Homo sapiens: one gene and its partners. The protein of the gene in region 1 purifies or fractionates together with the protein of each later gene. This does not show direct contact. Each region holds a gene or a part of one and is shown in the gene's direction. Other genes may lie near its edges. The genes, in order: RGCC, TRAF7, CARS2 and TLN1.

Region 1 (7,581 bases):
GATGTACACCCACTCAGATATTGGGAGTCATATCAGCCTCTCATCTCCATGGATATTGGGAATAATATCCCAGGGTGGGTGTACACCTCCTGCTGTATGGGGAGTCATATCGTCCTCCCCCATCCTGGCAATTAGGAACAATATCACAGGGTGGGTGTCCACAGCCTGCGATATTGGGACTCATATCACCCTCTCCCCCTCCGGATATTAGGAACAATATCACAGAAGGGTTGTATATTTCCTGCGATACTGCGAGTAATAGCATTCTCTTCTTCCGTGAATATTAGGAGCAATATCACCGGGTGGATGTACACCCACTGCTATATTGGGAGTAACGTCATACTCCACCCCCTGGATGTTATATTCGGATCAATATAACCGGGTGGGTGTACACCTACTGTGATATTGAAAGTAATATCATGCTCTCTCCTTTCCGTGGACATTAGGAACAGTATCACAGGTGGGTGTACACCCACTGCGGTATTAGGAGTAATATTAGTATGAATTATTACACCTTGATTATTAACATGAATATGAATTACCAATATTAATATTAAGAAATAATTGCTAATAAAAAGTTTTCAGATTATTAATATTAATATTATTAGGAGCTAATATTACTGTTTTCTAATGAATAAGATCAGTATCAGTTATTAATATCAGGTGTTATTAATAATTAATATTAATAATTTATTTTTATCATTGGTAGAACTATGTAATAGAAATTATGATTATCGGTATTGATTTAAAAATATCAGTTATTAATATTGATATTATTAATATCAATCAATAATTGATGTTTTAATATCAATCAATAATTGATGTTATTAATATCAATCAATAATTGATGTTATTAATTGCGATAAGTAATATTGCGACATTCCTCACAATATCGCAGAAAATGTACACCCCTCTGTGATGTTGTTCCGAATAGTCAGGGGTAGACGATGGCATTACTCCAAATATCGCACTGGGTGTACATTCCTTCTGTGATCTTGTTGCTAATATCCAGGCTGGGAGAGGATGGTATTAATCCCAATAATCCAGAAGGTGTAGACCTCCCCTGTGATATTGTCCCTAATATCCAAAGGTGGAGAGGAAGATATATCACCCAATTTCGCAGGGGTTGGACACCACCCCTGTGATATTGTTTCTAATGTCCACGGGTAGAGAAAATGACATAACTCACAGTATGGCAGGGGGTGAACACTCCCTCCATGATATTGTTCCTAATACTCGGGGGTAAGAGTATGATATTACTCCCAATATCATAGGGGGTGTACTCCCAATATCCCAGGGGGTGTATAGTATCCCGACCGGTGATAGACTCCGCCACGATGCGGGGAGTAATATCACGCCCCTCTCCTTCCCTGGCTATTACGATACACATCGCAGGGGGGCGGGCGACGCTCGCGACGCGGGGAGAAATATCAGCCCCTCCTGACATTACAAGCCACATGGCAGGGGATGGACACCCCCAGTGATGCGGGGAGTAATATCTACCCCCCCTTCCCCATGGATATTAGGAGCCACATCGAAGGCGTGTGGACAGCCCCCGCTGATGCGCAGAGTAATATCAACCTCCGTCCCTCCCTGCATGTTAGCAGCCACTGTGGACACACAGTGTATTTACGATATTTCCAGTAAGATTATCTTTTCTATTGAACCTTATGAACAAGATCACAGGGGGGTGTACACATCCTGCGATATTGGGGGTAATATCATTCTCTCCTCCACAGCATACTGGGAACAATATCACAGGGGCGTGTATTCCCCCTTTCTTATTGGGAGTCATATCATACTTGCCTTCCATATATTAAGAACAATATCAAAGGGGGGGGTGGACACTTTGACGATATTGGGAGTAACATCATTCTCTCTATCCCTGGATATTAGTAGCAATATCACAGGGGGATGTACATTTCTTGTGATATTGAGAGTAGTATTATTGTCTTCCCCACTGGATATTAAAAACAATACCACATGGGGTGTCAAACCACCTGCCAAATTTGAGGGAATCTTATCCTCTCCCCTGCACCCCCCGCGCCCCGGATATTACAGACAATAACACAGGGGTAATGTACACCCACTGCTTTATTGGGAGAAGCATCATCCTCTCCTCCCTTAGATATTAGGAACAATATCATGGGGAGGGGGTGTACTGCCTCGGCGATATTGGGAGGAAAATTATCCTCTCTTCCCCTGGATATTAGGAAGGGTATCAGAGGGGGGAGAGTGTACATTCCCTGTGATATTCAATGTAATCTTATCCTCTCCCTCCCAGGGTATTAAGAAAAATATTACAGGAGGGTGTACACCCCCTGCAATACTGAGAGTCATATCATCCTCTTTCGCTCTGGATATTAGGAACAATATCACAGGGTTGTGTACTCCCCCTGCGATATTGGGAGTAATATCATTCTCTCTCCCTGTGGATTTTAGGAAGAGTATTACAGGGCTGTGTACACCCCCTGCGCTATTGGGAGTAATATCATCCTCTCTCCCTCTGGATAGTAGGAAGAGTTTCATAGGGGTGTGTACACCCCCTGTGATATTGGGAGTAATATCATCCTGTCGCCCTGAGGAGAGAAGCCATTTCGCTACTGTCTCCTGTCTCTGAAGAGGAGGAGGAAGTAAAAGTTGGAAAACAACAGGAATGAAGTCAGTGTCAAGACCAGCCGGTGGCAATGAGGAGCCGGCCTGAGGTGAAACAATCAACCCCCGTGACTCTAAGTACATGTGCTCTCAATCCATCAAGACCCTTTCACGTGGAACCCCTTAAAGCTGTAAGCCCTTAAACGGGCCAGGAACTCTGTCTTCCTTCCGGGAGCTCGGCTCTTAAGACGCGAGTCTGCCGAAGCTCCCAGCGGAATAAAAAAAACTCTTCCTTCTTTAATCCGCTGTCTGAGGGGTTTTGTCCGCTGCTCATCCATGCTCCATTTCTTTGTTCCCTGACCGGGAATCGAACGCAGGCAGCAGCGGTGAGAGCACCGAATCCTAAGCACTAGACCACCAGGGGAACTTAGAACCTTGTGGGAAATAGATTGCGCACCATTAGAAGTGGGTTGGCCATCAGAAGGAAGCCTGGACAGGTCCCTTGTTTCTAAGGCGTGGCACAAGGTAACTGGTAAAGATACCTAGACCAGTTCCCATACATAGACACTTGGTGACAGCTGGTGCTAGAACCCCCACAGTGGCTGAGGGCATGCAGCAGCAATACTAGTAGCAAAGGGACAGATAGCTAAGGAAGGATCCCGCTCCACTCACCCAGGGAAATCAACTCCTGAAGTTCTGTTCGACCCCACATCAGAGGATCCATTGCAGGAGATGGCACCAGAGATCCCAGTGGTGTCCTCCCCTTAACAGGGAAAGAGGCTCCCCACTCTTGAGCCCACAGTGCTTGTGCCTCCACAAGACAAGCATATCCCTAGGCCACCCAGAGTAGACAAGAGAGGAGGACTATTCATATGATTAGTGGTCATTAACATATACTCCTTTGTGAGGTGTATGTTTCAATGTTTTGCTCATTTTTAATTTTTACCAGGTTGTCTATTTGTGATTACTTTGTAGATGGGTCTTTCTATATTCTGAAAACAAATCCTGGCTGGGTGCGGTGGCTCACGCCTGTAATCCCAGCACTTTGGGAGGCTGAGGTGGGCAGATCACCTGAGGTCGGGAGTTCGAGACCAGCCTGGCCAACATGGACAAACCCCGTCTCTGCTAAAAATACAAAAACTAGCTGGGAGTGGAGGCTGAATGTTTCACTCCGTTACATGTTAATTGCTCTACATTTAATTAGCCGTCTGTGGTGAGAGGCGAGAGGCTAGCGCCTAGCTCAGCGCACAGTCCAGGGCGTTCGCCCCCGCAGGCCGCGGGGCAGGGTGGCTCGTTACTCCGTGGACACTGCAAGGCGCCCTGTTCGCGCTGCGTCGACGCAGTAGTTTCTTCCCATAATAAACCCCTTCTAGATAAAGTCAGGCTGGCGGGAGCGCCCTGGACCGTAGTTCAGGCCCCCGCGCTCCGCGGTGGGAACAGTTCAGGACTCCCCCAACTCCTGCCCCTCTCGCCCCGACCCTCTCCACTCCGCCCGCCCACCATCTCGGAAGTCCCCTTGGGACAATGCGTAGGGGACCTCCGCGTCCCCGACACCCGACTGGGACACGGCCGCGGGCTCCTTCGTCCCTCACCGCCAGCCAGGGAGGCTCTGCATGCCCACGTCCACTTCACAGCCGAGGAAGCTGCGGCTCGCGGAGGTGCCTGGCACGCGGCGGGAAGCAGCAGAGCTCGCGCCCAGCAGTCAGCTCTGGTGACGCCGAGGACACCGCGTGGGCCGGGTTGTCAGGGCGCGGGGGCGAGAGGCGGGTAAATATTTGGGGCTGTAACCGGGGCTTCGGCGACTCCTCGTCACCGCGGTTCCAGGGCGGGCGCGTGGCGAGGGCGGTGCCTGGGGGCAGGGGCCTCCTCGGAGGGCGGCGGGGACAGACCCGTCGCCCCGGCTCCGCAGCCCCGCCCCGGCCCCGCCTCCGCTCCGGCCGCCGAAGGCTATAAGATCTAGGAACCCGAGCCGGTGGTAGGGCGGGCGCGGACCGTGCTGGGAGCGGCGCGGCTGGAGCGCAGCGCCGAAGGGACTGGCAGGGCTGAAGTGTGCGGGACAGCAAGCCCCCGAATAGCCCCGGCTGCCACCTCGCAGGACCCAAGGCCACGCGCGCCGGGCCCAGCTGAGCCGCCTCATGAAGCCGCCCGCGGCGCAGGGCAGCCCCGCGGCCGCCGCGGCCGCAGGTGAGTGCGGGGTCCGGGGTCCCCTTAAAGTCTCGGCTCTGCAGATGGCGGGTGAGAAAGGAGGGGCCCCGTGTCGTCCCTTCACACCCCCCACCCTTCCATCCTCCCCGGCGGGAACCTGTCCCCGGTCTTCCCGCGCGGGCGGCTGCAGCCTCCTTTCCGGCCCGGGCTGGCCCCCATGTCCCACCTTCCCTCCACCACCAGCTCCGCGCGCGCCCGGGGTTGGGGGGAGCGGCGGGGACAGGTAACCGGCAGCGCCTGGGGAGGAATCTGGCCGCGCCAAGTCGCTGGGTGACCCTGGGCCTGGCGAAGGCTCAGTTTTCTTGTCTGTAAAACGGACTTGGTAATAGAACGCACTTCGGGGGTGGTGGAGAAGATTACAAGGTAACAGCGACTGCGTGGCTGTCACTTGGCAGAGGCGCCAAGTGTCAGTTATCTTCGGGAACCGTGGCGGCCCCTCCTGGCCCTGGGAGGTGGTCCCGCTGCCCCCCTGACTTCCGTGCACTGAGCCCCTGGCCCTGCCCGCAGCCCCGGCCCTGGACTCGGCGGCCGCGGAGGACCTGTCGGACGCGCTGTGCGAGTTTGACGCGGTGCTGGCCGACTTCGCGTCGCCCTTCCACGAGCGCCACTTCCACTACGAGGAGCACCTGGAGCGCATGAAGCGGCGCAGCAGCGCCAGTGTCAGCGACAGCAGCGGCTTCAGCGACTCGGAGAGTAAGTGCGGCCCCCGCTAGGATGGCGCCGGGATCTCCCAGCTCCCAGGACCTGCCCCGCGAAGGCTGCGGCCTCAGTTTTCTTATCAGTAAACTGAGGAATGGTTTCCTGAAGCTCAACGCAGTAGGCCGAGTGGTGGCGGGGCCCCTGACGATAATCACGGGAAAGGTCGCTGGAGGGCAGGTTGGTTCACTTGCCGCCCACGGGTGTGTCACCAGGCAGGCGAGTTTAAGCAGCTTGTCCCGACTCAGCCAGACAGGACTCCCTGGACCTGCACCAGGCCTTTCCGCAGTTTCCCTCCTCTTCTCCTTTCCGTGCCTCTCCCCTCTCAGCTGTAACTTTGCAGATGTGGAACAAGTGCCAGTGGAATGAGGGGGCACAGTGGGGACATGGGAGGGCGCAGAACGGAAATATTCATGAAACCAGGAAAGGTTTCATAAGCCCAAACTGCTGTTCTTGGGATTTATGAAATAACTGCTTGCATTGTCTTCTGGCCCTTAGCTCTCAGACTTGTTGCTCCATTGCATGCAGTTATGAAAATCTTTGGCACTGCTGAGTTCAAGTATTTTTCAGCCAGGTCCTCCACCAGGCTGGAGGGGGAGCCAGAGAGCACATGGGCATGAAGGTGGTTCCTGGTGATCTTTCTCACAATGGAGACTACCCCAGGGTCTCTTTGTCCTGAACAACTTTGTCAACAACAGCAACAACAACAAAAACAACAAAAGAGACAGCTTTTTCCAGGAACTCACATGTCCTGGGAGGATTACAGGTACCTCAAACAGCAAATTAGGTGCCTTTTTAATATTACATGATTGTTGGTTTCAAATCCAGAATTGCTTATTGTTTTTCAAAGGGCAAAGTCAATTTTAAACTCTTCTGTGTTATTCTTCAGCCTTTAATCCTTAGATGGGTTACAGGCATGAATGTCACTCCTTTTGCTGCCCTTGACTCAGGACGTGAAAGTAATGGCCTTTCCGTGTGATTCTCTTATTTTGAAACCTGGAGCTCTTCCTTGTTCCTGGGCTAAGATTCGGGGCTAGACATGAACATGAGCTGCCCTTCTGCAAAGGGATAAATGCGCTCACCACCCTGGTCAGGGTTTGACTCAGGAAGCTGAGTTCCAGCTTGTTTCCTTGGCAGCACTGCCAAAGAGTTAGACCAAGCTGCAGCTTTTGAGGTGAAAGGGGATGGAAGAAAGTACTGTTACTTTTCCACTTAGAATTTTTGGACTTTGTTCTTAATGAATAGGTTCATTTTCAATTTCAAAGCAAAGTGTTAACATTTTTGAAATTTGTCTCAATTCTAAAGGCCAAACTTAAATATGTCTCCTCCTACTGGGGCATGGAGCAAGTTATTCATCAAATACAGATTCTCGCATGGAAAAGAAAGCTAGGATAGTGTGTCGCTGCTGCTCTGTGGCAAAGAACAGCTCCTTTCTAAGCAACAGCCTCACTCTACTAGAATAGGTCTGAGCGCGCCCATTCATGGCTGATTGCAACTTCCACTGGGTGGGATTTCAGATCTAGAATCTGTTTTCAGATGCCTTAAAGAGAAGACATAGAAACACATTCTTAACAGTTTCAGGGGAGATAGTTGGGATAGTTTGTAGTTTTGCTTAGGTTATATGTGTCTGTTTTCTGCTTTTGTTGTTAACGGACTAACCCTTAGTTTGGTGGTTAGAGAAGTGATGGGAAGAACATAAAGAAAGCTCAGATGACATTTGTCTTTGCTTTAAATGTGTAGTTTTTCTCTCACAAGGCTAGTCAGAAATATTGTTGGCAGAAGCTGTGTGTATCTAAATAGTAATTTCTTAAGGAAGCATAATATGTATATCTTAATTGCTGCCAAGAATTGAGTACAGACATTTGTTATCCTCGTTTGTCTGTTTAATGCTTTTCTATGGGAGAGAATGCTTAAGAGAGGTAGATACTACTGAAATTTAGCTCATCAAGAGGGAGACACACCAGGATAAGGATAATAACAGCAGCTCACTTTTAGCAAACGCTTGTTATGATGATGATGATGATTTATTAGCTGGAATGGGAACCATGTCTTCACGAATAGACTGAAGTCCTTTTGAGCCCAGAT
Region 2 (7,028 bases), on another chromosome or scaffold:
CCTGGCCTGGTCGCGTGTTAGGCATGTGAGTGGGCTCCACATGTGCACGTCCTCCTTGTGTCCCGGAATGAGGCCAGGTCTCCTCCGTCCTCCCTCTAGACCAGAATGGAAACGACCTTCGGACCCGCCTTTTCAGCCGTCACCACCATCACAAAAGGTGAGCCCTTAAGCCAAGGCCAGCCCAGGCTGGGAATAACCGGGGCACCCCCATGCCCACCCTGCTAAGGACTGAGGGACACTTCCCGGTGAGCTGGTGTTGGGTGCCAGTGCTGGGCGCGGGCAGCCTCACACCGCAGCCTGTGTCCTCACAGCCTCTCAGCCCTGGGCCTCCCCACTGGACAGGAGTCGGGTGTCCTGCTCCTTGTGCCTCGGTGACTGTGCTGTGCCCTCTCTCCCTGCCCTCTTCATCCCCTCTAGGGAGGCTTGCCCTGACATCTCCAGCACCACCACACAGCCCTGTCCCTTGTCACAGTGATCCCCAGCTTGTCCCCAGTCTCAGGCTCCTGGCCAGCCTCCGAAAGGTCCCGTGTGCCCGGAGGTCTTCTCTTGAGTTTGGCCCTAGGGCTTCAGTAACAGTGCTGCAGTTGTGACATGTTAATAGGAAGGGAGGGAGAGTGGAAGAGATCCATAAGTCTGGTTTGTTTTTTTGAGACGGGTGTCACTCTGTCACCCAAGCTGGAATGCAGTGGCGCAATCTTGGCTCACTGCAACCTGTGCCTCCTGGGATCAGTCCTGCCACCTCAGCCTCCCAGGTAGCTGGGACCACAGGCACCACCACACCTGGCTAATTTTTTTTATGTTTGGTAGAGATGAGGTCTCACCATGTTGCCCAGGATGGTCTCAAATTCCTGGGCTCACGTGATCCTCCTGCCTTGGCCTCCCAAAGTGCTGGAATTACAGGCATGAGCCAGCAAGCCAAGCCCAATAAATCTTCACCTGCACAAGACCACTGGGCGGGATACACGACAGAAACCTGAAGCTTCCCTGCTGCTTCTCAGTCCTATCCCCTAAAAACCAGAGTGCTGCGCTTTGAACGCAAGCGCCGTGCTCAGGGAGACCATGCGGAAGTGGCAGTGCCTTCTTCCCGAGGTGCAGGGCCAGGGACCCTCATTCCGGGGTGGGGTTCTGGGGTGACTTTGTTCTCTCTCCTTTCTGGCACTCTGCCCTTTGTAGAAGCACACTGGCTGCTAATTAGCTTTTTAATTGCTCTGATAAACCTGGCCATGGGGTCATAGGGCCGCCAAGGACACCTGCTTACAGTAGCGCCTCTTTGCTGCTGGTGATCCCCTCAGGGGCTCTCCAGGGGCCCTCTTTTTTTTTCTAATCCTACCCCCCAAAAAACGGTGCCTTTTCATCTACCCTTAGAAGCCCCATGGCCCCTGTCACACGGCGGAAGGTACCCATGATGGGGCAGGGCACGGCTGCTATGCCTGGCCCCTCGGCGGCAGGGATGGGCAGAGCCAGGCAGCAGGGCGCCCACAGGTACCTCACCTGGCCCCTCATGACAGATGGGGAAACCGAGGCCCAGTCACACGGCAGCCTCTCGAGGCCTCAATCTCGAGCCCAGGGCTCATCGTGACATCTGAGCTGGGCTGGTCCTGAGTCCGGGAGGTGTCTCTCTCTGCCTCCCACGTGGACTGACCGGCCGGTAGCCCTGCCCTCTGGCCCTGGCCAAGCTGGGGTGACGTGTGGGCAGGAGGAGGGAGGGCACTTCAGCTCCTGCCCCAGAGGAGGCCACCAAAGCTGGGGCCACTTCCTGGTCCTGGCTGTGCCAGGGACACCAGGATGCGGTCCTGGCCCTTCTGTATCCCAGCCCACACCTCAACCTCAGCTTCCCCCTCTGTGAGTGGAGGCTGTCAGGGAACTCACCTGGCAGAGGTGCCTCAAGAGGCAAATAAAATGGCACCCCCAGCTGCTGCCAGGCGGCCTTCAGAGTGATGGCTGCGTGCTGGCCATGAGCCTCAGCTGGCTCAATTGGGGTGCTGGGGAGCTTGTAGAGGCCCTGAAAGAAGACCCTGCCTGGGGTAGGCAGGGCTGGGGCAGGGGCTACCGGGCTCAGCGCTGGGACTGTCCAGATGTAGACCGAGCCCAGCGTCCATGCTCCTGGCACTGGTTTGACCTTGAGAGGGAACCCAAGCTTCCCCCGTGCCATCCCTGCATGCTTTCCTGCCTGCCTGGCCCTGGGGAGGGCTGTGAGCTACAGGGGACCCACAGGGTCGGGTATCCAGCATGGGCCCCACCTCCCCCACATCTGCTGAGGGAGCCCCCACTGAGACGCCAGCCCTCTTGCCTTGCAGCTGACGGGACCAGCACCTACAAGCAGCACTGCAGGACACCCTCCTCCTCCAGCACCCTTGCCTACTCCCCGCGGGACGAGGAGGACAGCATGGTAGGTCCCTACCCCCAGGAGCCCGTGTGAGCCTCAGCCTCCCCCCATCCTCCCTCCTGGGGGAACCAGGTCCCAGGAGGAGTTGACAGTGAGCTGGTGAGGCACAGGAGAAGAAGAGCACCTGTGGATACCCTGAGGCCTCGGCAGACATGGCAAGTCTGTGAGAAAGGAGGCTCCTGTGGCTGGACTGTGGGTGGCAGGGGGCAGCCAGTGAGGGCAGCTGGGTCAGAGGGCCTGGCACCTGCAGGCCAGGATGAGGCATATTTGGCTCCATCTTAAGGGAGGTGGAAACCACAGAAAGTTCAGTCAGGAGGATAGCACAATAAAATACATGCTTTGAAAGCTTCCTTTGCTGCTGGGTAGGGAATGAGCGGGGTTGCTGGGTCCAGGCAGGGTTTGAGGAGGGGTCCTGATGAGGCGGGGGGAAAGGTGTGTGGACCTAAGCTGTGGGGACACCAGAGGCAATGGGGTGGGGGTTGCGGAACCTGCGCCAAGTGCTGGGGGAGCCGGAGAATTCCCTGTTGCTGGCTGTGTGAGGTGCAGAAAGGATCAGGGCAGTCGGGGGCTGGCTGCTGGTACCTGAGCCCTGTGGCCAGGGTCTCAGTGGCCGTTCCCTGCCATCCTGGTCAATGGCGCTCATTGCTGGGCTCTGGGCCTACCCAGGGGACAGAGGCCAACTCTACCCTGGGCATGAAGGACTGGCCCAGCAGGGGGTGGGGGTGTGTGGGGCCTCTCTGGCAGCTGCCTCTCTCCAGTGCTTGGACACCAGGTGTGGCGGCCCTGCTGGCCCTCTTGGGACCGAGGCCTTTTCTTTTTTCCTTTTTTCTTTTTTTTGAGACGGACTTTTGCTCTTGCTGCCCAGGCTGGAGTGCAATGGTGTGATCTCAGCTCACCACAACCTCCGCCTCCCGGGTTTAAGTGACTCTCCTGCCTCAGCCTCCCGAGTAGCTGGGATTACAGGCGTGCACCACCACTCCTGGCTAATTTTGAATTAGTAGAGATGGGGTTTCTCCATGTTGGTCAGGCTGGTCTCGAACTCCCGACCTCAGCTGATCTGCCCCCTCCTTGGCCTTCCAAAGTGCTGGGATTACAAGTGTGAGCCACCTTGCTCAGCCAGAAAAGAAGTTTTTAATTAATTGAACAAACACACCTGTGTGCCGGGCGCTGTGCTAGGCCGAGGGCGAGTTGGGTATGTCTGGGCCCCGTCCCCTGGGCCTCTGCCTGCCTCGGTCTCCACAACCCGAAGCCACGAGTCCTCCATGTCTGTGGTTCCCATAATCACCTGCTATCCCCATGGGTCACGGTGGCTTTCAAGAGAGGCGGGTACCTTCTCTGTTTGCTGATAGGCCCACACAGGGAGTCCCCCTCCTGCCCTTCCCCCGTCCCCCAGGCCTGCCTGCTGTCAGCCCCTACGCCCAAGAGGGTGGGAGACTCTGGGGTAGTATTGGGCAGGCCCGGGAGAGTGGTTCCCGTGCCAGCTCCTGCTCTGCTCTCGCCCCTGGGGCTCCCTCTGCTGCTGTGGGGCCTTGTGACTCACTTTCTCTGACTCCCTTCTGTTCCCCATGTGCTGCTTCCATGCAGACGGGCCCTTGGGACCCAAAGGGAGGTGGGTACATGGCACACAATGCCCCCCGCCGGCCTTGGGACTGGTTTGCCTCTGTGCTCTGTGGGTTTCATACCCAGGCTGCCGGGAAGGGGGCCAGAGGCTCGGCAGAGCAGCAGCTGGGCCCCTCTGCAGTCAAAGCACCAGGAGAGAAGCCTTGGGCAGTGTGGCTCTTGGAAACTTCTGGAGGTTTCCAGGCCAGAGGGGAGGAAGGGACAGTGTCTGCCCCTCCCCCAGGCTCCCTTGTCGGTGGCTCAGCCAGAGGCAGGCACCTGTGGCCCTCACTCCTGCCCTCGGGAAGCTCAGCCGAGGTTCTCTGGGGGCCTGGCCCTGCCTTCCCTCTGAGCCTCCCAGCTGGGCCTGGTGTCCCCCACCAGCAAGGCCAGACAAGCAGCCAGGCCCGGGGGGCACCTGGAGCCCAGCCGTCGCTCCCTGCCAGCATTCCTGGCCCTTCCATCCTGCGGTCACGGCCTCGGCTGTCCAGGATTGGCTGGTGGAGGTGCCCCCTCACGGCCCACATTCCCCCACGGGAAGCAGGAAGCAGCCCGGGTATATGGAATTGAATAGCAGGAAGTCTCTCCATTTACACAAAGAGAGGTGGCAGGCGTGAGCGGGCAGCCCAGCACCCCGGCCCAGGCCGCCCAGGCGGGCAGGCAGGGACCTGGGTTGCATCAGCTCCCCACGCCCACCCACGGCCCCCGTGGACGAGGAGAGTACCCGCAGGGACCGGGGTGGCCCCAGGGGTGCTGCTGCCCTCGCGCTTCCGCCGGGCTGGGTCCTGTCCTCCCCGAGGCTCTGACCCCGTGCGGAGCCCCCCGACAGGCGCCTCTCCCTCCACACAGCCCCCCATCAGCACTCCCCGCCGCTCCGACTCCGCCATCTCTGTCCGCTCCCTGCACTCAGAGTCCAGCATGTCTCTGCGCTCCACATTCTCACTGCCCGAGGAGGAGGAGGAGCCGGTAGGTGTGGGGGACTCGGCGCAGAGCGGCTTCCAGGGCTGTCACCGCAGCCGTGGCACGGAGGCACCTTCCCCTCCGCCATGCCCGCCCAGCTCACAGGGAGAGGGCGGCTGGGGCCTGACGGGAACTGCAGTGCTTGCTGGTCCGTGGTGGGGACTCGAGGGACCAGGCCGGGTCCCCTGGGCATGTTCCCCCACTCCCCCTTCTCAGGGCTGCCCGGGAACTGGCAGCGGGAAGCACAGGGCTCCAGCAGGGCCCTTTCTAGTCTCACCCCAGGAAGGAGGCGGGCGAGGGCGGCCAAGGCTGGGCGGCTGAACTCATCCTCCGGGGTTGGGCCCTGCCTCTGGGGCCACAGACCTCGCTCTCCCTCCTGGGCCCCGATCAAGCCCCCCAGCTCTAAGCAGGCCTCTCTCAGGACGTGACCCTGTCCTCAGAGGACAGCCAGGCCTGGAGCAAGAGCGCCTGGGTGCCTGGGTGGTGGCGGGGCTGAGGGTGGCCTCCCGCCATCGCCTGCCTTTCCCGCTTGGTTCCAGGAGCCACTGGTGTTTGCGGAGCAGCCCTCGGTGAAGCTGTGCTGTCAGCTCTGCTGCAGCGTCTTCAAAGACCCCGTGATCACCACGTGTGGGGTGAGCCCGCCGCCCTTCCCAGCCCCCCTGCTGCCAGAGGCCCCCACAGGACCCCAGGGCTCTCGGGGGCCGGGGCTGTGGCGCCCTGGCCTTGGTCAAGGCCTGTCCTGGCTGCACTGGGCTTGGGGTACAGCGAGGCCTGTGGCTGCCATGGCCATGGACTAGGGAAAAAGAGGACCCTGCGCCACCCTCAAGCCCGCCCTTTGCCTCCACAGCACACGTTCTGTAGGAGATGCGCCTTGAAGTCAGGTAGGTTTGTGCCCCGGCCCAGGCCTGACGCCGACCGTGCCCATGGCTGCCGAGCAGAGGCGGGCGGCTTCTCCCTTGTCCCCTGCACAGCGTCCGGCCCTGTTTGGCCTCTGCTGGGGTTGGGATGGGGCTGCAGCCGTCCTAGGGACGCTCAGGCTGAGGCTCGGGACCTCCATGAGCAGAGTGGGGACACCCCAAATTCCAGTGTGTCCAGACTCAGAGACCCCACAGTGGGTGTGGGCCGAGGCTCCCCATGCCAGGGTTGGCACCCTCTGGGGAGGCCTTTCTCACTGGCGAGGCTGTCGTCCTCCCGCACGGCGCCCGCTCCTGCCTGCCTCTCCGCACTCTGCCCTCTGCCCTCTTGGCCCCACCCCACACTTTTCCGGGCACAGCTGAGTGTCACAGGTGACACTCCCTCAGCACCTGCTGCTCCTTCTTGGTGGCCCACCTGTGCCCCCGTTCCCATGTTGCGTGCCTCAGAGGCGCAGATGGACAGATCTGGCCCCCATTAGAGGCTCATGCCCACCCGGGTGAGGGAGCGTGTGCCAGGCAGGCCGTGAGGGTCAGCACGCCCTCCTCTCCCAGAGAAGTGTCCCGTGGACAACGTCAAACTGACCGTGGTGGTGAACAACATCGCGGTGGCCGAGCAGATCGGGGAGCTCTTCATCCACTGCCGGCACGGCTGCCGGGTAGCGGGCAGCGGGAAGCCCCCCATCTTTGAGGTGGACCCCCGAGGGTGCCCCTTCACCATCAAGCTCAGCGCCCGGAAGTAAGTGCCCCTCCCTGGGCACCTCTGCCTCCCTGGGGGCTGCTTCTCAGGGCTCTGGCTGAGGCCTCCCCGCATCCCGCCCTGGCACAGGGACCACGAGGGCAGCTGTGACTACAGGCCTGTGCGGTGTCCCAACAACCCCAGCTGCCCCCCGCTGCTCAGGATGAACCTGGAGGCCCACCTCAAGGAGTGCGAGCACATCAAATGCCCCCACTCCAAGTACGGGTGAGTGGGGGGCGGGCGGGGGTGGGCCGGGGTGGGCGCAGGCCCTCCACAGGCTCCGCTGAGAGCTGCCCGCTTGCTGGTCCCGGGGAGGTAGGCCGGAGCTGGGGCCACACCGGGGTCTGTAATCCTCTCTGAGGCCCAAGGCCCTGGAAACCCAGAGGGGGAGCCGAGGGCGTCCAGGAAGGCGGGCGTGGACGCTCCCGCAGCC
Region 3 (7,028 bases), about 69 Mb from region 1:
TCAGAGGGATGGAAACCCTGTTTGGGGAAAACAAATAGATCAGTTTGGTGCTAGGGGGGAGGAGCAGGGGAAGGGATGGGGCGTCAGTTGCAGCCAGACTGGGGAGGGTGCTGCGTGGTCTGGCCCAGAGAGTTTGGATTTCATGCCATGGTAGACGGAGTCACACTGGAGCGTTTTGAGGGAAGACTCTTAGCAAATGAATCATTTCAGCGATCACCCAGATGAGCACACTCACCCAGTGGATGGAGAAAATGGGGCAGAAAGAGCCGGGCTGACGGTAGCATGGTTCATGGTGGAGTCACAGAAGCAAGCTGAGGTCTCCTGATGCCATGTTCTTCAGACTTGGCTGCCCGGCACTTGCAAGGCGTGTGTGTGCGTGTTTGTGTATAGAGTGGCCCCTGTGGTCACAGCCTGCCTGCAGCGTCTCAGGGTCTCAAATTGCTCATGACCCTGCATTCCGCCAGCTCTGCCAAGCTGTGGAGCCTCTGCTGTCTCCAAGGGCAGTTCCGGGACTCAGCCTGGGCTCCTCTGGGCCAAGCAAGGGACTTGACTCTTGTTTTCATTTGCTTTAGGTTCCTGTAATTTTTTTCTTGTAAATCTCACATCTTTTAGACTCTTTCCCAACTTGAGGTGAATGAAGGAGCATGGTGATGAGAATGGTAATAATAGCTTGTGTTTTTAGAATTCATGCTGCACAGGCGGTAAGGCTGGACAGCAGTCCTGTTAGGTGGTGGGATTTTGCCAAATTTATAAGCAAGCCGACTGAGCTGTAAGAGGTTAATTATCTTGTTGAGTTTTGGAGATAGTTTTGTCCCTGGAATCAAGATTTGGTCTCAGCTGTGTTTGGAGAGGGAGGGGGTGTGTGGGAGGTTAAAGTGATACAATAACATGGCTAGGATTCCCCCACACCACCCTAAGAGAAAACAATTTTACGAACTGAAATTTAGGCCACATGGATAGCAGAGGTGAGTGTGACATTAGATAACCTTGAGTTTTAAGGTAACTTTTATGGGAAAACAGATTCTTGAGATGCTAAGTAGATTTTAAACCCTTTTAGTTTTACAAGTCTGAATTACCCCAGTGTAGTATATAAATAAGCTGGCATTTTTAAATATTCTACACTAGTGTGTGCATTCTTAGGAGTAATCTTATATGGCTTTAATGGGATCGTACTTGTTTTGATTTGGTATTTGCTTCTGTTTTGTCATAGTGAAAAATTAGAATTACTCTAGAACATGAACAAGAATGGTGAAAACACGATCTTAACTGAGAGATTGTATTATGAGTGAATTTTTATACAATTAAATAGACTTCAACTCACTTAAGCAACAACTCCAAAATTAAAAATGCTAATATTGTGTCCTGAAATTGATGCAATACCTTTGTCAGTTTCTCCTGAGAACCCTTGTGGCGCAGGCCCTGGTGCCATCAGTGAGAGGGAGTTTCCTTGTACCTGCTCCGCTGACCTGTCCATTGTGCTACACAGTAGAAGTTATGGAGCAGCATGTTAAAATGTAATGGATTTTTTACAAAGATAACTGATGACTTTGTGTAATAAAGACATCCTGACACTTTTTTTCTTTCAGCTCATATGTTAGATTTGATATCATTCGAAGGATCCTAACCAAGGTTTTTGGATGCAGCATAGTCATGGTGATGGGTATTACAGATGTAGATGATAAAATCATCAAAAGAGCCAATGAGGTAAGTGGAGAAGAGTTACATCTATTGATAATGCCATTGATTAGTGTTCTGAGCCCTTCCTGAAAGTGGTTCTTGGCCGGGCGTGGTAGCTTACGCCTGTAATCCCAGCACTTTGGGAGGCCAAGACAGGTGGATCACTTGAGGTCAGGAGTTTGAGGCCAGCCTGACAAACATGGTGAAACCTTGTCTGTACTAAAAATACAAAAATTAGTCAGGTGTGGTGGCGGGCTCCTGTAATCCCAGCTCCTCAGGAGGCTCAGGCAGGAGAATCGCTTGACCCTGGGGGGGCGAAGGTTGCAATGAGCGGAGATTGTGCCACTGCACTCCAACCTGGGTCATGGAGACTCTGTCTCAAAAAAAAAAAGAAAAAAGAAAGTGGTTCTTGTTTGCATTTTACAAGTAGTTCTCACATCTTATTGTCCATGTGTGGCCAGTGGGTGTAATCTGAGACATGAAACAGTGCTGGGTTAGCAGGGTTTCTTTGGTGCCCTAGTAAAGGAAGTTAACATCTATCGTATTGTGATCGCTGAAGGCTTTTCTGTGGCCTCGTGTCGTTACCTCCTTCTGTGGTCGTCTCCTGGCTCCAATCTTACTCCCTCCCCTGGCCCCTCGGCCTCCAAGGGAAATGACTTGACTTTCTCTTTACTGAGGGAACCAGACCCACTGATTGGACGTATTCATATTTGTGCTAATGATGCCTTTCATGTCTGTGTCTTGATAGTTTAAAAAGTACTTTTTGTATCTATTAGTATTTCAGTCTCAGAACAACCCTGTGTGCTGCGCAGAGCAGACCTTATTGTGCTTTTTTTAACACATTTTATTCCATATTAAAAAATTATTTGAAGCGATTTGAGATCTACAGAAAAATGACAAGAATAGTACAAAGATCTCCTGCAGCCACCCTGGGTTTCCTCGTGGCCATTGTTGGCTGCGTTGGGCCATCATCTTCTCTCTGTTCTAGACTTTTCCCACCAGGCCGCCTCCCCTCTCTGCACACGCCACGCGTGCCTTCAGAGCAAGGTCACTGGCTCTCGAGGCCCGCACAGCCCTCCCAGTCAGGAACCGGACATTGATGCAGTGCGCTGGTGTGGGTGACATGGACGTCAACCCCAGGTGTTGTCCCTGTCCCCGAGCGCCTCTTTCTTTTCTGTTCTAGAACCCCTTCCAGAGTCCTGTTGTCTCCTCGGTCTCCTTCAGTCTTCAGTAGTTCCCTGTCTCATGTCCTTGACACTGTCAAGGATTGTAGGACTTTGATTTTGTAAGGTGGCCCTCCACTCAGGTTCATTGGATGTGTCCCCATCTTGCAGAAGAGTCAAGAGGTTAAGGTGATCACATCTTGAGGTTGCACAGACCTTCAGGGGCAGGGCCACTCCCACAGCTCTGACTTCAGCTATCTCTGGGCAAGTACCCCTGCCAGGTGGGAATGGCCTGCGCACTTGTGGCGGGTAGCAGAAGTCTCTTTCCCGTGCAGGCTGAGGGCCCCACTGGAGTCTGGCCCACACCTGGAGTGTGGTGCCTGGCAAGCTTTGGGAAGACACAGTGGATGAGGTTGTACAGGCAGGTGGGACATTGGAGGCGCCTCCTCGGGCTCTCCCTGTTGGCTGGGGGCCAGTGCCCCGCACATCACTTCTACCGGAAGGGCTTTGGTGGGTCCTTTGACTTTAACTGCTGGTGAGGAAGACTTTTCCTAAAGAAGCCATTCTGATGAAACGCTGTCACTCTTTGCCCCACATGCTGTCTTGTGTCGGCTTTCTCCATTGCGGGTGCTTCCTCTAATCACCATTCTCTCTGGACATTTTTGCCCATTTTCACAATTCACTGTGGTTTAGCATACAAGACAGTCTATTCATTTGTGTGTTAGTTAGGATGACTGGCTATTTCCTTTTCCTGAATCTGATGAAGGAATTTAAGTAAAGCTGACCTAATTTTGATGTAGACGAGATGTAGTCTTGTGATACTTTGCCAGTTACCACTGCTTTTACCAGCATGTGTTACAGTGGAAATGTTCTAACATACATGAAGTAGAGAGAAGAGCATATGAACCCATGCACCTGTCACCGGCGTCCATGGTCAGCACCTGTTCCACCCCTGTTCTCTCTGCTTTTTGTGGAGACCACCTGTGGATTGTCCAGTGGTGGGCTGCTGTTTGGCAGTTTGACCCTCCAAGAGCATTAGACGGTGTTTGTCTTAGTCTGTTTTGTGCTGCTGTAACAGAACACCACAGGTTGGGTAATTTATAATGAATAGAAACGTATTTGCTCACTATGCTGGAGGCTGGAAACCAAGATCAAGGTGCCAGCATCTGGCAAGGGCCCTCTTACTGCATCATCCCATGGTGGAGGGCAAGAGGTCAAGGGGAGAGAAAGAAGCCCTGCCAAAAGCCCCCTGCCCCCACCCCTCCTTGGGTTTTTTTTTCTTTTTTTTTGGAGACAGGGTCACACTGTGTCGCCTAGGCTGGAGTGCAGTGGTGTGGTCATAGTTCAGTGCAGCCTTGATCTCCTGGGCTCAAGCTGTTCTCCCACCTCAGCCCTCCTGGTAGCTGGGACTCAGCTGTGCACCACCACACATGACTAATTTTTTTCTTTTTTCTATTTTTAGTAGAGATGCGGTTTCACTATGTTGCCCAGGCTGGTCTCAAACTCCTGAGCTCAAGCAATCCTCCTGCCTCGGCCTCCCAAAGTGCTAGGATTACAGGTGTGAGCCACTGCACCTGGCCGGAAAGCCCTTTTAAGAAGGCATGAAGCCCATCCAAGAGGGTGGGGCCCTCACGGCCTAATCACTTCTTCAAGTTCTCACCTCTTAATACTGTTACAAGGGCAAATAAATTTCAACATGAGTTTTGGAGGGGACAAACATTCAAACCATAGCAGTGTTTCTGGTGCTTTTTAAAAAAAACTTGCTGGATTTTTTTTTTTTTGAGACAGAATTTCACTCTTGTTGCACAGGCTGGAGTGCAATGGTGCTATCTCCGCTCACTGCAACCTCCACATCCCGGGGTCAGGCGATTCTCCTGCCTCAGCCTCCCGAGTAGCTGGGATTACAGACACCCACCACCATGCCTGGCTAATTTTTGTATTTTTAGTAGAGACGGGGTTTCACCACGTTGGCCAGGCTGGTCTCGAACTCCTGATCTCAGGTGATCCGCCCTCCTCGGCCTCCCAAAGTGCTAGGATTACAGGTGTGAGCCACCACGCCTGGCCTGGATTTCTTTTTTTGAAAAAAAAATATACATATACATACTTTTTAAGTCAGTGAGATTTGAATTATAGCATTTGTCTGTCATTGTGGCTTCCCTTCCTCTTTAACCTCCCGTCACACCCATGCATCTTCCTTTTGTGAAATGGGGTGGAACTAGTGACTAAAGATTTGGATTGGAAGTCAGAGGCCGCCTTTGGGCTGGGGCGTTTATCTGAAAAGAGGCTGAACTTTGTCATTTGTTGAGTGAACAGAGCTCTTCTCTTGTCTCTTAGGCATGAGTCAAAGGAATGGTGTGAGGTCCTTGAGGAACATTTTCACTGAGGTCTCTGTCTTCCTATTTTCTATTGATTTGTCTTTCTCATAACTGGGTAGTCTCCCACCGCATGGGGCTGTTTAGCAGTTCTAGCCTTTTCCCAATTGCTGTTTGTATTGCTTCTGGCTGTTAAAAAGAGTGCTGCTATGAACATATATGCTTTTGTTTTGTTTACTTATAAATATATTTCCTGTGGCTGGGTGCAGTGGCTCACGCCTGTAATCCTATACTTTGGAAGGCTGGATCACTTAAGCCCAGGAGTTAGAGACCAGTCTGGCCAACATGGCAAAACGCTGTCTCTACTAAAACACAAAAAATTAGCTGGGTGTGGAGGTGTGCACCTGTAATCCCAGCTACTCGAGAGGCTGAGACACGAGAAGTACTTGAACCCGGGAGGTGGAGGTTGCAGTGAGCTGAGATCGTGCCACTGCACTCCAGCCTGGGCCACAGGGTGAGACTCTGTCTCTAAATAAAAAGTTAATTAATTTCCAAAGCGGAATTGCTAGGTCAAAGGGGGAACAGTTTATTTGATATCTTGCAACTGAGAGTCAGATCATTGAGAGACTGGCAGTGCTGGAAATCGGCTCCCACTTTAAATGTATTTCTTCACATCCTTACCCCCAGCCTATAAGAGGCAGGATTTAGAAGGCAGGTGCGTGATGTCTAAGGCTGTGCGTGAATGTCTAGTCACCAGGTAACCCTCAGCAGAGGTGGTGTTTGGAAATGCCCCACTGGTAAAGAAGGAAGGTCAGTGGTTCGGGGCTTTCACCTGCCGTCGGGGCAGCCAGAGCCTGAAATGAAAGCACTTGGTAGCTTCGTGCCTCTCATGAATCTTCAAGATCAGAAAGAATTGTGTCAGTCCCCATGTCCTGGTGGCAGGGAGCTGGTAGAGGCTGAGACACTGGCTGAGTTCTGGAGGGAGCCCCATGGGACAGAGAAAGGGCCCCGCAGGGGATGGGAGGAGAGGTGAGGACACAGTGTACTTGGAGGGTGTCATGGGGGCGATGGGGAAGGTGGGGCAGGAACGTTGCCATCAGAGAAGCGGGACAAGAGCCCCGAATCCAGGGAGCAGAGAACTGCAGGAAGGAGGAGGTGGCCAGCGTGGTAAAGGGAGGAAGAAGCAAGAGTTAATTTCACAGATGCCACAAGGAGGGATTGGTTGTTAACTTTTTTAAAAATGTTATGATTAGAATATGAAAAACTTGGTAGAATTGGTTAAACATTCTAACTGTAGAGAGTAGTTAATTTTTGAACCAGAGAATTTCCATACTTGGTACACAGCAAGATCCTAAGATGGTATTGAATAGTTTCTTTCCTCAAAATAATGTCTGACTTCAATGTAATAAAACATGTATCTGAAACCCATAGTTATGAAAACATCTGTTTTTTAGTATTTAGTGAAAAGGTAATTCTTTAAGAAATGCAAATCAAAACCACAGTGAGATAACATCTCATGCCAGTTAGAATGGCGATCATTAAAAAGTCAGGAAACAACAGATGCTGGCGAGGATGTGGAGAAATAGGAACGCTTTTACACTGTTGGTGGGAGTGTAAATTAGTTCAACCATTGTGGAAGACAGTGTTGCGATTCCTCAAGGATCTAGAACCAGAAATACCATTTAACCCAGCAATCCCATTACTGGGTATATACCCAAAGGATTATAAATCATTCTACTATAAAGACACATACACACGTATGTTTATTGCAGCACTGTCCACAATAGCAAAGACTTGGAACCAACCCAGATGCCCATCAGTGATAGACTGGATGAAGAAAATGTGGCACATGGAATACTGTGCAGCCATAGAAAAG
Region 4 (4,776 bases), on another chromosome or scaffold:
TACTCTCTTCCTTTCTGTGCCCCATCCCCCTGCACCATCAGTTCTGAGAACATGCCAAGCTCTTATCTGCTGCAGGCTCTTCCACTCAGTTCTCTCCAGCTTTTTGAACACTGTGCTCCTTCCAGTTCATCAGGCTTCAGCCTCAATGTCACCTCCTCAGAGAGCCCTTCCCTGACCACCTATTTGAAGTAGTTCTCATCACAGCACTGTCTCTATTCTCTCATAATCCAAATCACAGTCCTCAGTTTTGCTGCTTGTTTATTTATTTATTACCTGTGTCCAAAACCAGAATGTAAGCTCCATGAGAACAGGGAGCATCCCTAGCCCCTTGCATAGAATCTGCCACCTAGCTGATCTTTAATAAATGTTTGCAGATTGAACCCGTACATCAAAATATTTTATGACTTTCACATATTATGTAAAAGTCCAAGTTCCTCGGTGTGATATTCAAGTCCCCAATAACCTTTTCTTCACCATTCCTATATTCCAGAACATTCCTTGATACTTTCCGATGTGACATCTTGGTTGTTCATGTCCTACCATTTACCTAAAATGCCCTCCTATCATCTGTATATCTTTTATGGCCTAGCTCTGCCTCTCACCCCTTCAAGGCTTCTCTCTATTTTGGGAATGAAAACCCAGCCAAAAGCCACTTTTGTAATTACTTTTGTGATTTCAAACAAACAAACAAACTCCCCAGTTGCTTCAGTCAGAAACAATAACCAACTGCCTTGTTACATTCACTGTGATGTGTGAATGTCTGCACCAAATCACATGCACACAGAGTTCTACGCTGTCTCATAGTCTCAGCCACTGTAAAATCTTTCTTCTTCTTCTGCCCCCACAGGTTTTCTGTTCCCCAGAGCCACCTGCCAAGACCTCTACCCCAGAAGACTTCATCCGAATGACCAAGGGTATCACCATGGCAACCGCCAAGGCCGTTGCTGCTGGCAATTCCTGTCGCCAGGAAGATGTCATTGCCACAGCCAATCTGAGCCGCCGTGCTATTGCAGATATGCTTCGGGCTTGCAAGGTAGAAATCCTTGAGGCATTTCCGTGAGGCAGCTTTGGGCCAGAACATAGTGGGAGAGAAACTGTAGGGATCTGCGGGGCCTAAAGCTAACATATTACTCTGGGGACAGGAAGCAGCTTACCACCCAGAAGTGGCCCCTGATGTGCGGCTTCGAGCCCTGCACTATGGCCGGGAGTGTGCCAATGGCTACCTGGAACTGCTGGACCATGTACTGCTGGTAAGGGAGGGCGTTGCTTGTTCCTCATACCAGCCTCCCTGAATACACAGCCCTCTTCCTGCAGGCCTCGCACCCTGCTGTCTGTTTTGCTCAGATCTCCTCCCTACCCCACCCTCTACTTCCCAAATCTGTTCTCCTTTCCAAGTCTCCCTTTCTCCCAGGCCCCATCCTTCTTATCATCTTTGGTTCTCCCAGTCACCTCTTCCTCTTCCTCTTTTTCTTTTCTCCTCCCTTCCCACCTGACCACCCCCTTCTCTACTTTCGTCGTCTCCTCTTTCATCTCATCATTCTCCTTGCTCCTTGTCAGCCGGTGAGTGACACAGCCCCACTGTCTCTATCACGTGTGAGGTGTGATGCATGATGTGTACTTGGATAGGCAGCGTGGAGTTTGAGGGCTATGGTGTGGAGTGCTCTAGGGATAGGGGTGAGGGGGCCATGGTCTGCCCTATTTCATAGATCAGGGTAGACCCTAAGATGTGATGCTCTTTGTCCCCTGCCCGCTTCTTGCCCAGACCCTGCAGAAGCCAAGCCCAGAACTGAAGCAGCAGTTGACAGGACATTCAAAGCGTGTGGCTGGTTCCGTCACTGAGCTCATCCAGGCTGCTGAAGCCATGAAGGGTGAGGGGTGACCAGGGACAGGGACGGATGGAAAACCCTTATCATGGTGTGATCTCTGCTTCCTGGCTGGACAGCTCTGTGCTAGCCTCTGACCATAGTCCCCACAGATGCCAGGGCCTGATGATACTAACCATGCTCCCTGGTGCTTTTGACCTCCCCACTCTGCCTTAGCCTCTTTCCTCTTCCTTCATCCCACCAGGAACAGAATGGGTAGACCCAGAGGACCCCACAGTCATTGCTGAGAATGAGCTCCTGGGAGCTGCAGCCGCCATTGAGGCTGCAGCCAAAAAGCTAGAGCAGCTGAAGCCCCGGGCCAAACCCAAGGTCAGTCCTGCTCCCTTCCTCTTCCACCCTCACCATGGCAGTGTCCCCACCTTCATCTCTGACTTTACATCTCTTTCTGCAACCTTCGCTTATTGCAGGAGGCAGATGAGTCCTTGAACTTTGAGGAGCAGATACTAGAAGCTGCCAAGTCCATTGCAGCAGCCACCAGTGCACTGGTAAAGGCTGCGTCGGCTGCCCAGAGAGAACTAGTGGCCCAAGGGAAGGTGAGTGCTTAAATACCCAGAAGAATGGGGACAGGTTGGCACTTTGATGTCCACATCCACATCCATAGCCAGCGAGTCTTTGAAGTGAGGAAAATGCAGGTCTAAGTAGGCTCTTCTCCTTCCTACAGGTGGGTGCCATTCCAGCCAATGCACTGGACGATGGGCAGTGGTCCCAGGGCCTCATTTCTGCTGTAAGTGTGCAATACCACTAGGTCTCTCTCAGTTTGAGAGACTTGAGAAGGCTGGAGTGGGGATGGACCAGGGCAAGGGGCATATTTTTAAGCAAACTCTCCCTGCTTTAGGCCCGGATGGTGGCTGCGGCCACCAACAATCTGTGTGAGGCAGCCAATGCAGCTGTACAAGGCCATGCCAGCCAGGAGAAGCTCATCTCATCAGCCAAGCAGGTAGCTGCCTCCACAGCCCAGCTCCTTGTGGCCTGCAAGGTCAAGGCTGACCAGGACTCGGAGGCAATGAAACGACTTCAGGTGAGAACCCTGACCCATCCCATTGTCCCTTGGGCTATACTGCTTCAAACTGTCACTCCCGAGATGTATGTTTCTATGAGAGAATTGAGGTACTGTCTCAACTGGGACCGTACCTGAGTTCTCAACCTAGGCCACTTTCTCTCTGCCCAGGCTGCTGGCAACGCAGTGAAGCGAGCCTCAGATAATCTGGTGAAAGCAGCACAGAAGGCTGCAGCCTTTGAAGAGCAGGAGAATGAGACAGTGGTGGTGAAAGAGAAGATGGTTGGCGGCATTGCCCAGGTGAGCTTCACCCCAGATGCTGAGGGACGCTGTCAGGAGGGCAGTCATGTTGCCTGCGCTGGTCCCAACTACCCTATGCCCCTGCTGTGCATCCTCACTGAACTAAGTCCCCGATCTCCACCCTCAGATCATCGCAGCACAGGAAGAAATGCTTCGGAAGGAACGAGAGCTGGAAGAGGCGCGGAAGAAACTGGCCCAGATCCGGCAGCAGCAGTACAAGTTTCTGCCTTCAGAGCTTCGAGATGAGCACTAAAGAAGCCTCTTCTATTTAATGCAGACCCGGCCCAGAGACTGTGCGTGCCACTACCAAAGCCTTCTGGGCTGTCGGGGCCCAACCTGCCCAACCCCAGCACTCCCCAAAGTGCCTGCCAAACCCCAGGGCCTGGCCCCGCCCAGTCCCGCAGTACATCCCCTGTCCCCTCCCCAACCCCAAGTGCCTTCATGCCCTAGGGCCCCCCAAGTGCCTGCCCCTCCCCAGAGTATTAACGCTCCAAGAGTATTATTAACGCTGCTGTACCTCGATCTGAATCTGCCGGGGCCCCAGCCCACTCCACCCTGCCAGCAGCTTCCGGCCAGTCCCCACAGCCTCATCAGCTCTCTTCACCGTTTTTTGATACTATCTTCCCCCACCCCCAGCTACCCATAGGGGCTGCAGAGTTATAAGCCCCAAACAGGTCATGCTCCAATAAAAATGATTCTACCTACAACCTCTGCCTGGCTTCAAGGGAGATACAAGTTTTCTCCCAGGGCAGTAGGAGAGACAGTGGGGTTGAATTCTGTCACCCAGCTTGATCCAGCTTGAAATGGGAGAGGGGAAGACTGGCAGTCTGCACCTGAGGTCCCTTCCTCCTTGCACCCGGACCCTAAAGTTATCCAATGGGGAAGTTGTGCCTGAGAAGTCATACTCCTGTTATCCTCACCTCCCTGGCCAGCACCTAAGCCTCACAAAGTGTCGTTCTGCTGCTGCTGGGACAGCAGCTACCACAGTTCCTTGTGGCTACCAGGACATTCTGTTCTTCATAGCTACTCAGGGTATGTCAACAAATCCAGTCCTTGACCAAATTCAAATTTTCAAAAGAAGCTTTGCTAAAAATAATATGCCTGTAAGTGTCTGAGCCTAAGAGAACTATGGCCACAAAACTGATTGAAGCCATTAGCAAGCAGAAAAATCCCAACTTGAGGCTGCCTCGGGTAGGCACCGCTCTTGATTGGGTTGGGACACTCCTGCCTAGGGTAGCGCTAAAAGTGAAGAGCTTGACCCAGGTGTGAGAATTTATTGTTAGAGGGGGCAGAGCTCCCCTAGTGGCCAGGAAGGTGCTAGCAGCCCTGTTCCAGCCACCCTGCTTATCTGGTGGGTCAGTGGAAAGAGGCAGTCAGAGAGGTGGATGCTGTGTGCTTCCACGTCCCCATCCAGCCACTCTGTCCATAATGCATGGACTCTCTGACAGTCGTCTTAGGTTGGCAACTATTTTCATGCGTGATTCTTTAGTCAGCCCTACCGCCCAGTACATTATTTCCTCAAGTAGAACACAAACGCCACCCATCTGCTACTAACACCTTCTACTCCCACCACATTAGGGAAAGCTTGAAGTAGAT

Evidence for each region.
Region 2: the proteins of RGCC (region 1) and TRAF7 purify together in Homo sapiens (affinity purification with mass spectrometry; 3 studies listed by BioGRID and IntAct, with this or other methods). This does not show direct contact.
Region 3: the proteins of RGCC (region 1) and CARS2 purify together in Homo sapiens (affinity purification with mass spectrometry; 3 studies listed by BioGRID and IntAct, with this or other methods). This does not show direct contact.
Region 4: the proteins of RGCC (region 1) and TLN1 purify together in Homo sapiens (affinity purification with mass spectrometry; 3 studies listed by BioGRID and IntAct, with this or other methods). This does not show direct contact.

Annotation. Positions count from the first base shown.
Region 1 is NC_000013.11:41,452,978-41,460,558, forward strand, and holds the start of RGCC (regulator of cell cycle RGCC), read left to right. Parts: upstream 1-4,572; 5' UTR 4,573-4,730; coding exon 4,731-4,779; intron 4,780-5,307; coding exon 5,308-5,493; intron 5,494-5,994; exon of another isoform or gene 5,995-6,262; intron 6,263-7,581. UniProt on the Homo sapiens protein: Modulates the activity of cell cycle-specific kinases. Enhances CDK1 activity. May contribute to the regulation of the cell cycle. May inhibit growth of glioma cells by promoting arrest of mitotic progression at the G2/M transition.
Region 2 is NC_000016.10:2,165,780-2,172,807, forward strand, and holds part of TRAF7 (E3 ubiquitin-protein ligase TRAF7), read left to right. Parts: intron 1-77; exon of another isoform or gene 78-99; coding exon 100-157; intron 158-2,297; coding exon 2,298-2,389; intron 2,390-4,834; coding exon 4,835-4,951; intron 4,952-5,484; coding exon 5,485-5,577; intron 5,578-5,792; coding exon 5,793-5,826; intron 5,827-6,411; coding exon 6,412-6,595; intron 6,596-6,685; coding exon 6,686-6,820; intron 6,821-7,028. UniProt on the Homo sapiens protein: E3 ubiquitin and SUMO-protein ligase that plays a role in different biological processes such as innate immunity, inflammation or apoptosis. Potentiates MAP3K3-mediated activation of JUN/AP1 and DDIT3 transcriptional regulators.
Region 3 is NC_000013.11:110,696,114-110,703,141, reverse strand, and holds part of CARS2 (probable cysteine--tRNA ligase, mitochondrial), read left to right. Parts: intron 1-1,586; coding exon 1,587-1,704; intron 1,705-5,174; exon of another isoform or gene 5,175-5,176; coding exon of another isoform or gene 5,177-5,224; intron 5,225-7,028. UniProt on the Homo sapiens protein: Mitochondrial cysteine-specific aminoacyl-tRNA synthetase that catalyzes the ATP-dependent ligation of cysteine to tRNA(Cys). In addition to its role as an aminoacyl-tRNA synthetase, has also cysteine persulfide synthase activity.
Region 4 is NC_000009.12:35,696,448-35,701,223, reverse strand, and holds the end of TLN1 (talin-1), read left to right. Parts: intron 1-847; coding exon 848-1,033; intron 1,034-1,142; coding exon 1,143-1,250; intron 1,251-1,762; coding exon 1,763-1,868; intron 1,869-2,067; coding exon 2,068-2,192; intron 2,193-2,290; coding exon 2,291-2,416; intron 2,417-2,544; coding exon 2,545-2,607; intron 2,608-2,718; coding exon 2,719-2,901; intron 2,902-3,051; coding exon 3,052-3,180; intron 3,181-3,307; coding exon 3,308-3,433; 3' UTR 3,434-4,276; downstream 4,277-4,776. UniProt on the Homo sapiens protein: High molecular weight cytoskeletal protein concentrated at regions of cell-matrix and cell-cell contacts. Involved in connections of major cytoskeletal structures to the plasma membrane.